4 separate regions of the Homo sapiens genome follow, and regions 1, 3 and 4 are each reported to be linked to region 2. Evidence: microRNA targets listed by miRTarBase, many of them from high-throughput screens and not tested one by one. Region 2 holds a microRNA gene; each other region holds the end of a gene's coding sequence.
What was found. The annotated mature microRNA hsa-miR-589-3p reads UCAGAACAAAUGCCGGUUCCCAGA and lies in region 2 at 1,116-1,139, opposite strand. An mRNA with a match to its seed (bases 2 to 7 or 8) in the 3' UTR can be bound and repressed. Matches are read on the target gene's strand: a 7mer-m8 pairs with bases 2 to 8, a 7mer-A1 pairs with bases 2 to 7 and ends in A, and an 8mer does both.

Region 1: the mRNA of LRIG1 is a reported target of hsa-miR-589-3p. Seed matches in the 3' UTR shown: 7mer-A1 at 1,306-1,312.
Region 3: the mRNA of SPRED1 is a reported target of hsa-miR-589-3p. Seed matches in the 3' UTR shown: 7mer-A1 at 810-816 and 8mer at 1,056-1,063.
Region 4: miRTarBase lists NPAS3 as a target of hsa-miR-589-3p. Seed matches in the 3' UTR shown: 7mer-m8 at 1,307-1,313.

The regions. Positions count from the first base shown.
Region 1 is chr3:66,377,526-66,380,633 of GRCh38, reverse strand. It overlaps LRIG1 (leucine rich repeats and immunoglobulin like domains 1), which reads left to right. Exons shown (of 19, transcript NM_015541.3): 18 at 1-57; 19 at 145-1,837. The coding sequence ends at 371. SLC25A26 (solute carrier family 25 member 26) reads right to left here. Exons shown (of 10, transcript NM_001379210.1): 10 at 1,711-2,944. The coding sequence ends at 2,827. Among named protein-coding and RNA genes, the nearest start is that of LRIG1, 120 kb to the left of the region's middle.
Region 2 is chr7:5,494,719-5,497,826 of GRCh38, forward strand. It overlaps MIR589 (microRNA 589), which reads right to left and starts at 1,199; the gene lies at 1,101-1,199. All of the region lies in intron 3 of FBXL18 (F-box and leucine rich repeat protein 18), which reads right to left. RefSeq lists enhancers at 343-422, 493-542.
Region 3 is chr15:38,351,421-38,354,528 of GRCh38, forward strand. SPRED1 (sprouty related EVH1 domain containing 1) reads left to right here. Exons shown (of 7, transcript NM_152594.3): 7 at 1-3,108. The coding sequence ends at 244. Among named protein-coding and RNA genes, the nearest start is that of SPRED1, 100 kb to the left of the region's middle.
Region 4 is chr14:33,800,571-33,803,678 of GRCh38, forward strand. It overlaps NPAS3 (neuronal PAS domain protein 3), which reads left to right. Exons shown (of 12, transcript NM_001164749.2): 12 at 1-3,108. The coding sequence ends at 539. Among named protein-coding and RNA genes, the nearest start is that of SNORA89, 93 kb to the left of the region's middle.

The DNA.
Region 1 (3,108 bases), not on the chromosome of region 2:
ACGATAGAATGCTGACGGCTGTGAAGAAAAAGCCAATGGCATCTCTAGATGGGAAAGGTAACTTTTGACTGTCTTCTAACAGGTGGGTTGGGAGCTGCTTAAACGGTCAAGTGGGGGTCTGACAGGTTCGTTCTTTCCTTGTAGGGGATTCTTCCTGGACTTTAGCAAGGTTGTATCACCCGGACTCCACAGAGCTACAGCCTGCATCTTCATTAACTTCAGGCAGTCCAGAGCGCGCGGAAGCCCAGTACTTGCTTGTTTCCAATGGCCACCTCCCCAAAGCATGTGACGCCAGTCCCGAGTCCACGCCACTGACAGGACAGCTCCCCGGGAAACAGAGGGTGCCACTGCTGTTGGCACCAAAAAGCTAGGTTTTGTCTACCTCAGTTCTTGTCATACCAATCTCTACGGGAAAGAGAGGTAGGAGAGGCTGCGAGGAAGCTTGGGTTCAAGCGTCACTCATCTGTACATAGTTGTAACTCCCATGTGGAGTATCAGTCGCTCACAGGACTTGGATCTGAAGCACAGTAAACGCAAGAGGGGATTTGTGTACAAAAGGCAAAAAAAGTATTTGATATCATTGTACATAAGAGTTTTCAGAGATTTCATATATATCTTTTACAGAGGCTATTTTAATCTTTAGTGCATGGTTAACAGAAAAAAATTATACAATTTTGACAATATTATTTTTCGTATCAGGTTGCTGTTTAATTTTGGAGGGGGTGGGGAAATAGTTCTGGTGCCTTAACGCATGGCTGGAATTTATAGAGGCTACAACCACATTTGTTCACAGGAGTTTTTGGTGCGGGGTGGGAAGGATGGAAGGCCTTGGATTTATATTGCACTTCATAGACCCCTAGGCTGCTGTGCGGTGGGACTCCACATGCGCCGGAAGGAGCTTCAGGTGAGCACTGCTCATGTGTGGATGCCCCTGCAACAGGCTTCCCTGTCTGTAGAGCCAGGGGTGCAAGTGCCATCCACACTTGCAGTGAATGGCTTTTCCTTTTAGGTTTAAGTCCTGTCTGTCTGTAAGGCGTAGAATCTGTCCGTCTGTAAGGCGTAGAATGAGGGTTGTTAATCCATCACAAGCAAAAGGTCAGAACAGTTAAACACTGCCTTTCCTCCTCCTCTTATTTTATGATAAAAGCAAATGTGGCCTTCTCAGTATCATTCGATTGCTATTTGAGACTTTTAAATTAAGGTAAAGGCTGCTGGTGTTGGTACCTGTGGATTTTTCTATACTGATGTTTTCGTTTTGCCAATATAATGAGTATTACATTGGCCTTGGGGGACAGAAAGGAGGAAGTTCTGACTTTTCAGGGCTACCTTATTTCTACTAAGGACCCAGAGCAGGCCTGTCCATGCCATTCCTTCGCACAGATGAAACTGAGCTGGGACTGGAAAGGACAGCCCTTGACCTGGGTTCTGGGTATAATTTGCACTTTTGAGACTGGTAGCTAACCATCTTATGAGTGCCAATGTGTCATTTAGTAAAACTTAAATAGAAACAAGGTCCTTCAAATGTTCCTTTGGCCAAAAGCTGAAGGGAGTTACTGAGAAAATAGTTAACAATTACTGTCAGGTGTCATCACTGTTCAAAAGGTAAGCACATTTAGAATTTTGTTCTTGACAGTTAACTGACTAATCTTACTTCCACAAAATATGTGAATTTGCTGCTTCTGAGAGGCAATGTGAAAGAGGGAGTATTACTTTTATGTACAAAGTTATTTATTTATAGAAATTTTGGTACAGTGTACATTGAAAACCATGTAAAATATTGAAGTGTCTAACAAATGGCATTGAAGTGTCTTTAATAAAGGTTCATTTATAAATGTCAGTATAGTTGGTGGTCCTTCTTTTACAAACGCAGTCATTCTGCCTTTAATTATCTTCCCCCAAAAAAGAAAAAAAAAATAGGCGAAGCAAAATCACATACTGTTTGTTTGCTCCAGGGCAGACAACACTGCTAGATTCCTGACATTTTGTTTTGAATTTTTCTACACCTGGAGCTTGTTAGTCAAGGTCTAAAATCCCTAAGTGTGGTGACCTTTCCATTTCATCCTGCCTTTTCAAAGCTGGCCCAGGCCCTCCTTTCAGTCTGACATGAGAATGGCGAGAATGGCTCACCCACCGTGCCCTCCTGCACGAAGCCAGCTGGGCCCACCTAGTCACTTGAGTTGCAGCTGCTTTCTCTCACACACCACAGGGGGCGCTGGACACATCTCTGTAAAATAATACAATTGTGCGTTTTTATGGGTGAAATCTGAGGGTAATTAAAACCAGCAGCCTAGTTACCCAGAAAGAGTGCTTGCTATGCACCTGTAGTTCAATCTTTCTTTCTTTTTCAACAAAGCCTACCCTTACACAACAGGAATTAACTAGGGGGAGAAACACCCACATACACAACTCTTCCCCAAGTCTCCTTTTCCCAAACAAACAAACAAGCTATTCTTTTAGAATTATAACCATCTTGCCTTCTGCTGAATCCACCATCAGGTGGCAGGAAATGAAAGATCAGATACAGATCAAATGAAAGCTCTAAAAGGCCTGGCCTCAGCATTACCAAACTTATTTATTAAGAGGTTCTGAGGAAATTGTTCAGAGTACCGCCACAGACCCCGTTTTCTTCTCTTAGCTCTCTGGCATACAGGCCAATGACTTCATACCAGCCAGCCTATACCACGGATGGCACAATCTCCATGCCGGTATCTTAGCACAACTGGTCTTCAGCACTGGGGCCTATAGTTCAGACAGCTGCTCAGCGGAAGAGGGTTTGCACTGCAGGCCCCTCTCTTGACAGAAGTGGAGGTGAGGCTTGTCTCTGCTTCAAGGACTCTTTCTGCCAACTTCCAACAGCAAGCTGTGCGTTCGGTCATAAGCCCCCAGAAAGATGAAACCTCCCAGACTGATGGCTGCCATTCGAGGGAAGACACCTGCAAATAATCTAGGGGAAAAAACAGGATTTTTAATGTTGTGCGTATTTTAAAAAAAGGTTAAATTCCAATACCCACAGCTTGCTCAGCTCAATACACCATGCTCATTAGTGGCTAACTACCAAACAGCTTGTGAACGCTCCCAAATAAGGCAAGTAATAGCTGTGTCCCAACA
Region 2 (3,108 bases):
AAAAGCAGGAGGCTCCAGACAGCAGGAGATGGAAACGGGGCGTTGGGCAAGGACGGTGCCGTCGTGTGGTCACTAGGTGGCGATGCGGCTCCGTGCTACCCGCCCCAGATCGCCCCGAGCCTCTGGGGTTAAAAACCAAGTCTGCAGAGCGTGGAAAAAAAACCTTTTTTCCACGAGATAACCACATCCACATTCTTCCGCCCCGGAGGAAGTCACCTGTCACAGGTGTTCAGGATGTGGCAGGCCCACGGGAGTGACTGGTCAGGCAGCGGGCCTGGCACGTCTAAAGCTTCCTAGGCTCCCACAGCACGCCGCCTGGGGCACGGCACCCAGGACGGTGGCAGAGCTGACCTGACTCGAGTGACCGGCAGCGTCTGCAGGGAGGATGGGGACGAGGAAAAGGCTCCCACTGCGCCGGGCCTCACCTTTGAGTGAGGATCCAGCCTCCCCATTCTGCTCCCTGAGGGGGCACCTGGGTCTCCTGGTGACTCTGTGGGCATGAAAGGTGCTGAGCTCACAGTGCGGGGGCTCCCATCTGGCCACCCACTGCACGGGCCGTGAGAGCAGCACCCAGGCCTCCGAGGTGTCCCTAGGGTGGCTCCGGGGCCTGGCTCTGAAAAGGATGGCCCGCTTCTGCCCAGACGCTGCCCTGGTCACGCTCACAGCAGCCCGGGTGACTCAGGGTGACACGCTCCCCCGCCCTCCACCGCAAGCAGGGCTTAGCTGGTCTAGGGAAAGAAGGTGTCTTTTCTGCCCAATTTGTAATCCCCTTACTACTGAGGTGTGTCCAAGTCCCAGCCAGAGCGACTCCTTCCTGCACCACCCCCTCCCTGCCAGGAGCCCCAGCAAGCACAAAGCTGGGGGTCACGGTGTGGGGGCTGCCAGTGGCAGCAGGTGGCTGGCGTGGGATTCCAAGCTCTGCCACCAAAGAGACTCCGGCCGCCCCAGGATGCGGCCTCGGAGCATCGTGCCAGCCTCCAGGGATCCCAGCGCCGTTTCCTCTGCACAGCTCCTGCCCACGGGCAAGCGAGTGCCACCTGCTCCTTCCACTGCAGCGTCCGGGCTCCCTTGCCGCAGAAGGCAGGAATCCAGAGGAACGGGGCCAGCTGGCAGCGTCTGGGAACCGGCATTTGTTCTGAACAGGCAGTACCCAGCTCAGAGCAGACGTGGTTCTCAGGGGCTGCTGGGCACAGGCTGGAGTTTGTCCACAGAGATGGCATTATGAGCAGGGTCGGTCTCTCAGGCTGGCCCACAAAACCCACAAAACCCACAGAACCCGCAGGCCTCTCCGCGCCTTCTCCATGGCCCTGCTCCTGAGGAAGGCCCTTGGCCACGGGGATTCCGTCCCAGACTCCGGAGGCCATCGGGGACCATGAAATCACGCTGACCTCGGGAGGCCGGAGACAAGCAGCCATGTGACCTAGGCAAGTTCATGCACTCTCTGGGCCTTACTTTCTTCATCCATTAAGTGGGTACAACTGTGTCGACACTCAGAGGTTGTTGAGAATATCAAAGGGGTCAAGACCTGTACACCCATGAAAAGCACCTGGCAGAGGTCACATGAGCCCAAAGGTCCCCTCCACCCGCGGTGGCTGCCGTCACCTCTGCCTCTTGCTTCCGGAACACCCCCTCCCTCCGGCCAGTGCCTCCCTTGCTGACAGCCTCTGCTCGGTCTCCCTTCCACATTCTTCTTCCTCTTCCTGGCCAATCCTTGTCACGTGTGCCCCAGCCCAATCCGTGGGCTCACCTGGATCCATAGGTGGCTAAAGGCCACCTATGAGCTGAGGACGCCAAAGCAACTCTCCCAGGCCAGACCTCAGCCTGGACTCAGGGCTTGGCTTAGGCCCATCAACTAGGAGGCCACACTTAACAGACTCTCCGGACCGGGCACAGTGGCTCACACCTGTGATCCCAGCCCTTTGGGCGGCCCAGGCAAGAGGATCACTTGAGCCCAGGAGTTCAAGACCAGCCCGGGCAACACAGCAAGACCCCGTCTCTACAAAAAATACAAAAAACTAGCCAGGCGGCCGGGCACAGTGGCTTACGCCTGTAATCCCACCACTTTGGGAGGCCGAGGTGGGCGGATCACCTGAGGTCAGGAGTTCGAGACCAGCCTGGCCAACATGGTGAAACCCCGTCTCTACTAAAAATACAAAAAAAAAATTAGCCGAGTATGGTGGTGGGCACCTGTAATCCCAGCTACTCTGGAGGCTGAGACAGGAGAATCGCTTGAATCCAGGAGGCAGAGGTTGCAGTGAGCTGAGATCATGCCATTGTACTCAAGCCTGGGTGACAGAGTGAGACTCTGTCTCAAAAAAAAAAAAAAAAAAAAACTAGCCGGGCATGGTCGCATGTGCCTATAGTCCCAGCTACTCGGGAGGCTGAGGTGGGAGGATCACCTGAGCCAGAGAAGGTCGAGGCTGCAGTGAGCTGTGATCATGCCACTGCACTCCGGTCTGGGAGACAGAATGAGACCATTTTTAAAAAAAAAAAGTGGGAAAGCCCAAATTTTACATGCATTTTGCGTCAAATTTCTAAAGCAGGGAGATTCTGAAAAGTCGCCCGTCTGGTTCTCAAAGCAGTCGCCCGTCCTGGTTCTCCAGGATGCCTGGGTCAGAGCATGAATAACCACCCCGCTCCCCACGCACGGAGCCTCGCAGTGGCTCGAGCTGAGAATCAAAGCGGCCGATCCAGGGCCTGGTGACTCCACCAGACAGGAAATACAGAGGCTTCTAGCAATCTGCTCTGCCATTTGAAAGTCCTGGGTTTGATCCTGCGCTTCTCAACCCAACACTAACAGGTCTGCAGTGGGAGGAGGTCGAGAGGGAGGGTGGCGCCAAGCTGGCTGCATGGCCGGGGGACTCCAGGGTGTGAGCCTCCAGCTCGGCTGCTCCCGAGCAGACCCGGCCACTTCCTGCCATGCCTTCTGCGGGAGAGGGGAGATTTACAAGGGGCGCCCTTATCTCTACTCTGCATGGCTCCAGGGCCAAGGTCAAGCACCGGTGTTTGCGAGAGACTCAGCTCCCCCTGAGCTCCCACAGCCTCATCTGGGAAATGGGAATGATCAAGGCTGCAATCGCAGCAGATTATGGCAGGGAGGATGGGCTC
Region 3 (3,108 bases), not on the chromosome of region 2:
TCAAGTTAGTTGCATGCTCTGTGCAGAGAGCATGTTGTATCATTGTATGTCAGACTCAGAGGGAGATTTTTCTGATCCCTGTTCGTGTGACACTAGCGACGACAAGTTCTGCTTGCGATGGTTAGCCCTGGTAGCTTTGTCTTTCATTGTACCATGTATGTGCTGCTACGTCCCTTTGAGAATGTGCCATCGCTGTGGTGAGGCATGTGGTTGCTGTGGTGGGAAACATAAAGCTGCTGGATGAAATGGTCCAGTGCCAAAATGAGCTTAAAATCTTTGTTTCCAGGAATTAGCTAACTTGGATTTGTGGAAGCTTTTGGCAAGCAATATGGAATCTTGCCTGGTATCATTGAGCCCACACATGGAGGAAGCAGAACTCATCAGTTCTTGGCGTTTCACGCCATGCCTAACTTTTCCCTTGAGTGCATGGCATGTTTTGTTACAGGTTGTAGAGTATTTGCAGAAGGAAACCATTTCTGGTTATTTGGCTATAAAAAGTCAGCATAAAATATGATCCAACTAAAAGGGATTAATTTTTGGCATTTTTGTATATTTATGCATTAGGTGATGGGACTTTTAAAGGTTTGAATTTATTAGGACACGAACTAAAAATAAAAGTGCACTAGGGGACAGTTGATTTCAATCTAAGAAAAGTTAACACTTGGGAATTACAAGAAGTAAAACAAGTGCAACTAAATCATTTATTAGTTGTTTTTTGAAAGCAGTTTTATGTATAAATAACAAATGTTTATATTTAACTAAATGTAAGGTACGAATTATTACATATTAAACTTTTCTTCCCCTTCCTAGTTCTGAAGTAGATATATATATATATATATCTACTGTCACATTCCATATATTTTGAATATTTAACTCATCTAGTTAATAATGTTTTTATTCCATGCGAATGATTTGATATTTTCATCCTTATTTCTCTTTGGCTACAATTTATATTGAGTTATATCTGTACATTCTGGTAATCTAAAATCCTTAAAAATACTCTAATAGCCTTGAGTGACCAACTTTTTTTTTAAAGCACAGATGTAATTGTCTAATGTTCTGATGGGAACGTAACACTTATTTTTATATAAAAAGAGACTGAGTAAACAAACATTATAGAAAAAAAGTGAAGTTTTTTAGTTGTTTTTTGTGGTATTCAACCAGCAAGTTGTTTTCTTTCAGAGTTTCCTCCTTCAAAAAGTTATATTGCATTTACAAATGTTTTACAAGGCAGAAAGTTTGACTGGATAGTTAGTGTAAAAGCTTCATGTTGAGATCTTCACGTATCATTCTGCTAAACCAGAATATGTTCAGCTGTGTTACTAATTTTTCAGCTTAATCCTCAGTGCTTATTATTTACATAACAATAACTTTTTATCAGTTACATTTTATTTTTATTTAAACTGGCCAAAAGCAAAATTATTTTATGTTAAAATGTGTGCTAAACTATCCCAGGAAAGTATTTAATCCAACATTGTAAATGAAGTATCTTGTACATATAAATTTATTTCTTTTGCAGAGCATTATATTACTGGATGTTTAATTTACAAAATAGTTGGGTAAATGTTCCAACAAACTTTAAAGTACCTTGAAGTCAAATTGTCTGTTTTTGTTTTGTTGTTGTTGTTGTTGTTTTCTTAAGTGTTACATTAAAACTCTAACCAAGGAAAGGGTTCTTTAAGAACATTCCCTTAGAGGGATAAAGTTGAGAAGTGTGCCTTTTTTTTAATGGCTTGAAGTTTCAGAGGTGATAAAAATTAAAATCACACTACTATTTGAAGCTCATTTTCTATGCAGGTTTTTAAACGTCATTTATGTATCATTCTTTTTATATATCACACTTAAGCTTGTGTTAGCTTTTTTCTTTTGCCCCAGATCAAACTGAACAATGTATATAACACTATCTGTCTGTAAAATACTTTTTTTAAGAAAGCATTTATATTTATATGACAGCTTGAACTGACAACATTGTGTATATAGATCATCTTGAAGTATTATTTCACATTGAAAAGAAGAAAATATATTGATAACTATAGATGTTATGAAGAAGAGGGTATTTCTAGTTTTGTACTAAAAATCAATTGGATGAACTAAATCCAAAACATGACACTGTAGGCAGCAGTTTTAAGTCTTATTTTTACTGTTTATATATTTGAATGCTGCTACAACAGATGATCTTCATCCCTGAAGTTTTCAGCTAAACTTGGTTTCCTAGAATAGACTGTTAACTTTCAAAATTTTTATTGGTGAAATGGAAATACTGTTTTTCCTTGTGAATGAATTTTCATATTTGTAAGTGCTAAGTTTATAATTCAGGTTTGATCAAGGTGTGAATAACTGAAGAAAATAACTTGCTGGCTATATAGGAAAATGCTGTGGAAATGAACTGTGTATATACTTCTGGGAGGAACAAATTTAATCATTTCTTCTGTTAAGCACTAATCAGTATAGTGCAACTCCTGGTTCTGTACTGTATTTTATATGCAACATATATGCTTTAATATTTTAATGTTTGTGCATTAATATTTTCAATTTGTTTAACCACTTTGCTGCTAAGATTTTGCCGTCCCATTCCCATTTTTTCCTTTACAATTTTAAACAAGTTTCTTCATTAAAAACTATGGTGATGAAATGGTTTTTATTTTACCTTGGATCTTTATAGTTAACATACCCAGTTTCTTAATCAGTCTACAAGACTAACTGATGATATAATGTTCTCTGAATCCCTATATGGAAATTTTCTTTTGAGTAAATGAGAATTCCTTTGTGAAAGCAAATGGGTAGTTTAAATCACTGATTCTTAAACATGTGTATAGGCACCTTCAGGAACATTTTCTCATTCTCTGTACAGATTCGGCACTGCCAATTGGCTTTTCCTCTAAAACTTTTCTTTGTTTTTATCTGATATAAGCAGATGGCTCAAGACAACTGCTTGAGTAATAGTATTGAAAATGGAATCATCTAGACGGCATGACAAGCAAGACTGGTCTGATGAACTTGTTCAGAATTGATAATTCTTAAATATTTCTCTTGGCTTCAAAAGGGACATCATTTGATTTCTGAAGAAGTATGTCGTGTGGAGCTTCAGCACCACCTACTGGATGATTT
Region 4 (3,108 bases), not on the chromosome of region 2:
CGCGGGACAAGCACCCCGGGAACGGCGGCGGGGGCGGGGGCGGGGGCGGCGGCGCGGGGGGCGGCGGCCCCAGCGCGTCCAACTCCTTGCTGTACACTGGGGACCTGGAGGCGCTGCAGAGGTTGCAGGCGGGCAACGTCGTGCTCCCGCTGGTGCACAGGGTGACCGGGACCCTGGCCGCCACCAGCACGGCCGCGCAGAGGGTCTACACCACGGGCACCATCCGCTACGCGCCCGCCGAGGTGACCCTGGCCATGCAGAGCAACCTGCTGCCCAACGCGCACGCTGTTAACTTCGTGGACGTTAACAGCCCCGGCTTTGGCCTCGACCCCAAGACGCCCATGGAGATGCTCTACCACCACGTGCACCGGCTCAACATGTCAGGACCGTTCGGCGGCGCAGTGAGCGCAGCTAGCCTGACGCAGATGCCCGCCGGCAACGTGTTCACCACGGCCGAGGGACTCTTCTCCACGCTGCCCTTCCCCGTCTACAGCAACGGCATCCACGCGGCACAGACTCTGGAGCGCAAGGAGGACTGAGGCGCCGCCCGTCCTGGGCCCGGCCAGGCCCCGCTTGGAGGAGGCATCGTCGGCATTTTCGTTTAGACCTTTAATTCTAGCACTTTGAATTCGAGCAGGTCAGCGTCTTCTCTCGCCACGACGGTCCCCATTCCACCCCCTCTTTCTTTCACCTGACTTATTCTTTCGTGTAAAGATATGTTTATTTTTTGCCTTCAGAGGGTCAGACGACCAGTTGCCTGCCGTTTTGTCTTCTTCTAAGGTGTGTGTTGGGTTGTTTTGCTTTCCTTTGCATCTTTATTAAGATGTCTTTCATGTGTATATGCCTCTGCCATAGAATACTCAGTCTTGTGGTCAAGAGAGTTCTCAAGTGACAACCATTGGGGTTTCTTCATAAAGATCTTGATATGATCAAGATGGAAAGAGACAAGCATAAACAATGTGCCCTGTTTGACTAAGTCAAATGAAATAGGGTGGTTTTTGTTTCTGTTCCTAATTCCTTTAAAAAATAGGGGGAATAGTATTTTAGAATTTTATGCAGAATTTAATTCTCTTTTTACGGTTAAGATTTTAAGATTTTCTTACTTGCACATAAAAATAATTTGGGTTCTTAAACTTAATTTCTGGCCTGTGACTAGAATGTTTAAAAAAAAAAAAGTCGGACTAAATGTTAATTACTGAAACATTAACTTAATTTCTAAAACCATGGTGCTATCATTTATTAATCTGTAATGTCTTCATACAAAATGCAGCTCCTGGGCTGGGTTTTGGGGGAAAAAAAAAAAATGTGTTCTGTCCTGGTCTGGAGTCCGTTGCTGCAGTCTCCTTGGTTAGTTAAGACAAAGCCCTCATTAACGTTTGCTGCAGGACTTAAAATTTTTTACCTCCCAACTAACAAACATAGCCTCACATTAAATTTAATGGGTCAGTAAAGCCCCTTTTAAAGGGGCTGCTGGAAAACTCAATCAAACTGATTTGAGGAGCAGTTTAGGTACATACTGCCTTTTGTTTAGCTTTTTGTTTTCCTTACTCAGTCTAACTGAGGCTAATTTTGCAACTTCAATAACACTTCGGAGTAAAAGAAGGAAAATATTTAACATGTTTTTGGTTTTTTTCATTTCTTGCTTAAAACAAAAAGGAAGGTTGTATTTGGGGGGACTGGTTTGATTTGATGGAATTTCTTTCCCTTTGGTTCTTATTTCTGGGTTGAAACCAATAAGTTTTAAAACTAAAGAATGGGTTAATAAGCTTCAGACAGATAACTGCAACTGAAAACTGCACATTAAGTAAAAAAAAAAAAAAAGAAAAAAAAAAGAAAAAGAAAAAGAAAAAAAATCCTATTTTGTCTTTGTTGCCAGAAATCAGTGTGGTGTCAAACACTCCAAATGACTGTCAAGTATAAATTCTTCTTCCACTTCATTTTTGGCAGCTGTTTGTTAAGGCATCTAATAACAGATGTGAGAACTGTAATGTGTACAATGTGTATGTGTCCTTGGCTGTCAGTCCCATTGCAGTTTCAATGTGTGTTTCTATATGCAGTATATACTAAGCTAATGTAGTTGTTTTGTCCTTTGTCTTATCTGTGCTCTATCTCTAGTCCGGAGTGGTACAGTCCCATTCCTGCAGTCCTAGTGAATCAGTGATTCTTGGGGGTTAGTGGGTTTTGTGTGGTGGCCTTCCTCTGTAATGTCACCCTATGCTGCTTCTACTGTCTGTGAATCTTCCGTTTTACCTTTTAAAATTCCTGCTGTTGCTTTGCTGGTGTATATTCTCCCTACCTCTCCTCTCTTTCCCTCCCTTTCCCATCTCCCCCTCTCCCTCCTCTTCATTCCTTCCCCATCCCCAAAATCTCTTTCATTCTCAGAGATAAAAAGACTCTTAACTAGCTCAAGGTTAATGGAGCCATTTTTCCCACAACGGAATTCTGGGTATGACTCTGTCTTCTGGAGTGCAACACAAAGCACTGAAGAATAATGCTCAGATATATTAAATAAATTGATGCCATATAGCCTCAGTTGTTAACATTCCCAGAGTCCCTTGTGCTCTACCTATAAGCAGTGGGTGCTTTTCTTTGGTTTCCTTTCAGGTTGGCTGATGGAGCAATATATAAAGCAATTACCAGTGAGACAGAAAATTCTTTCAAAGGTCAACCAACATTTTTAAGAAACAAAATGGGAGGGGATAATGGAATCTAGAATTGTCATATATATTTGTTTACTTGTGCAATGCTAATATAGTAACTCGGCTGTCCTTTGAATATCACTGTGTTGAGTAGATTCCTCTAGGACCTTTGATTTCATGAGTTGGGCCCAAACCGTGGTGGAATAATAACAAAAAGAAGTTAAATGCCACAAATTTTAATAGTGAGCTTACTTGAAGGATTTAAGTAGGTTTAGGAGGTGAAGAAGGCCGATGGAGAAATTTACAGATTAATTTTGGAAGCTCTACTCTAGCTATCGAACAATCAAAGGAATGCACCTATCAGCTACAAAGAACAGCTAGACAGCTGTTTTTTTTCTTTTATAAATGTTTCTGTGTTGTGTCAAAATGATTTCTGGTGATTTAAACTAACAGATAATCACAGCTGCTG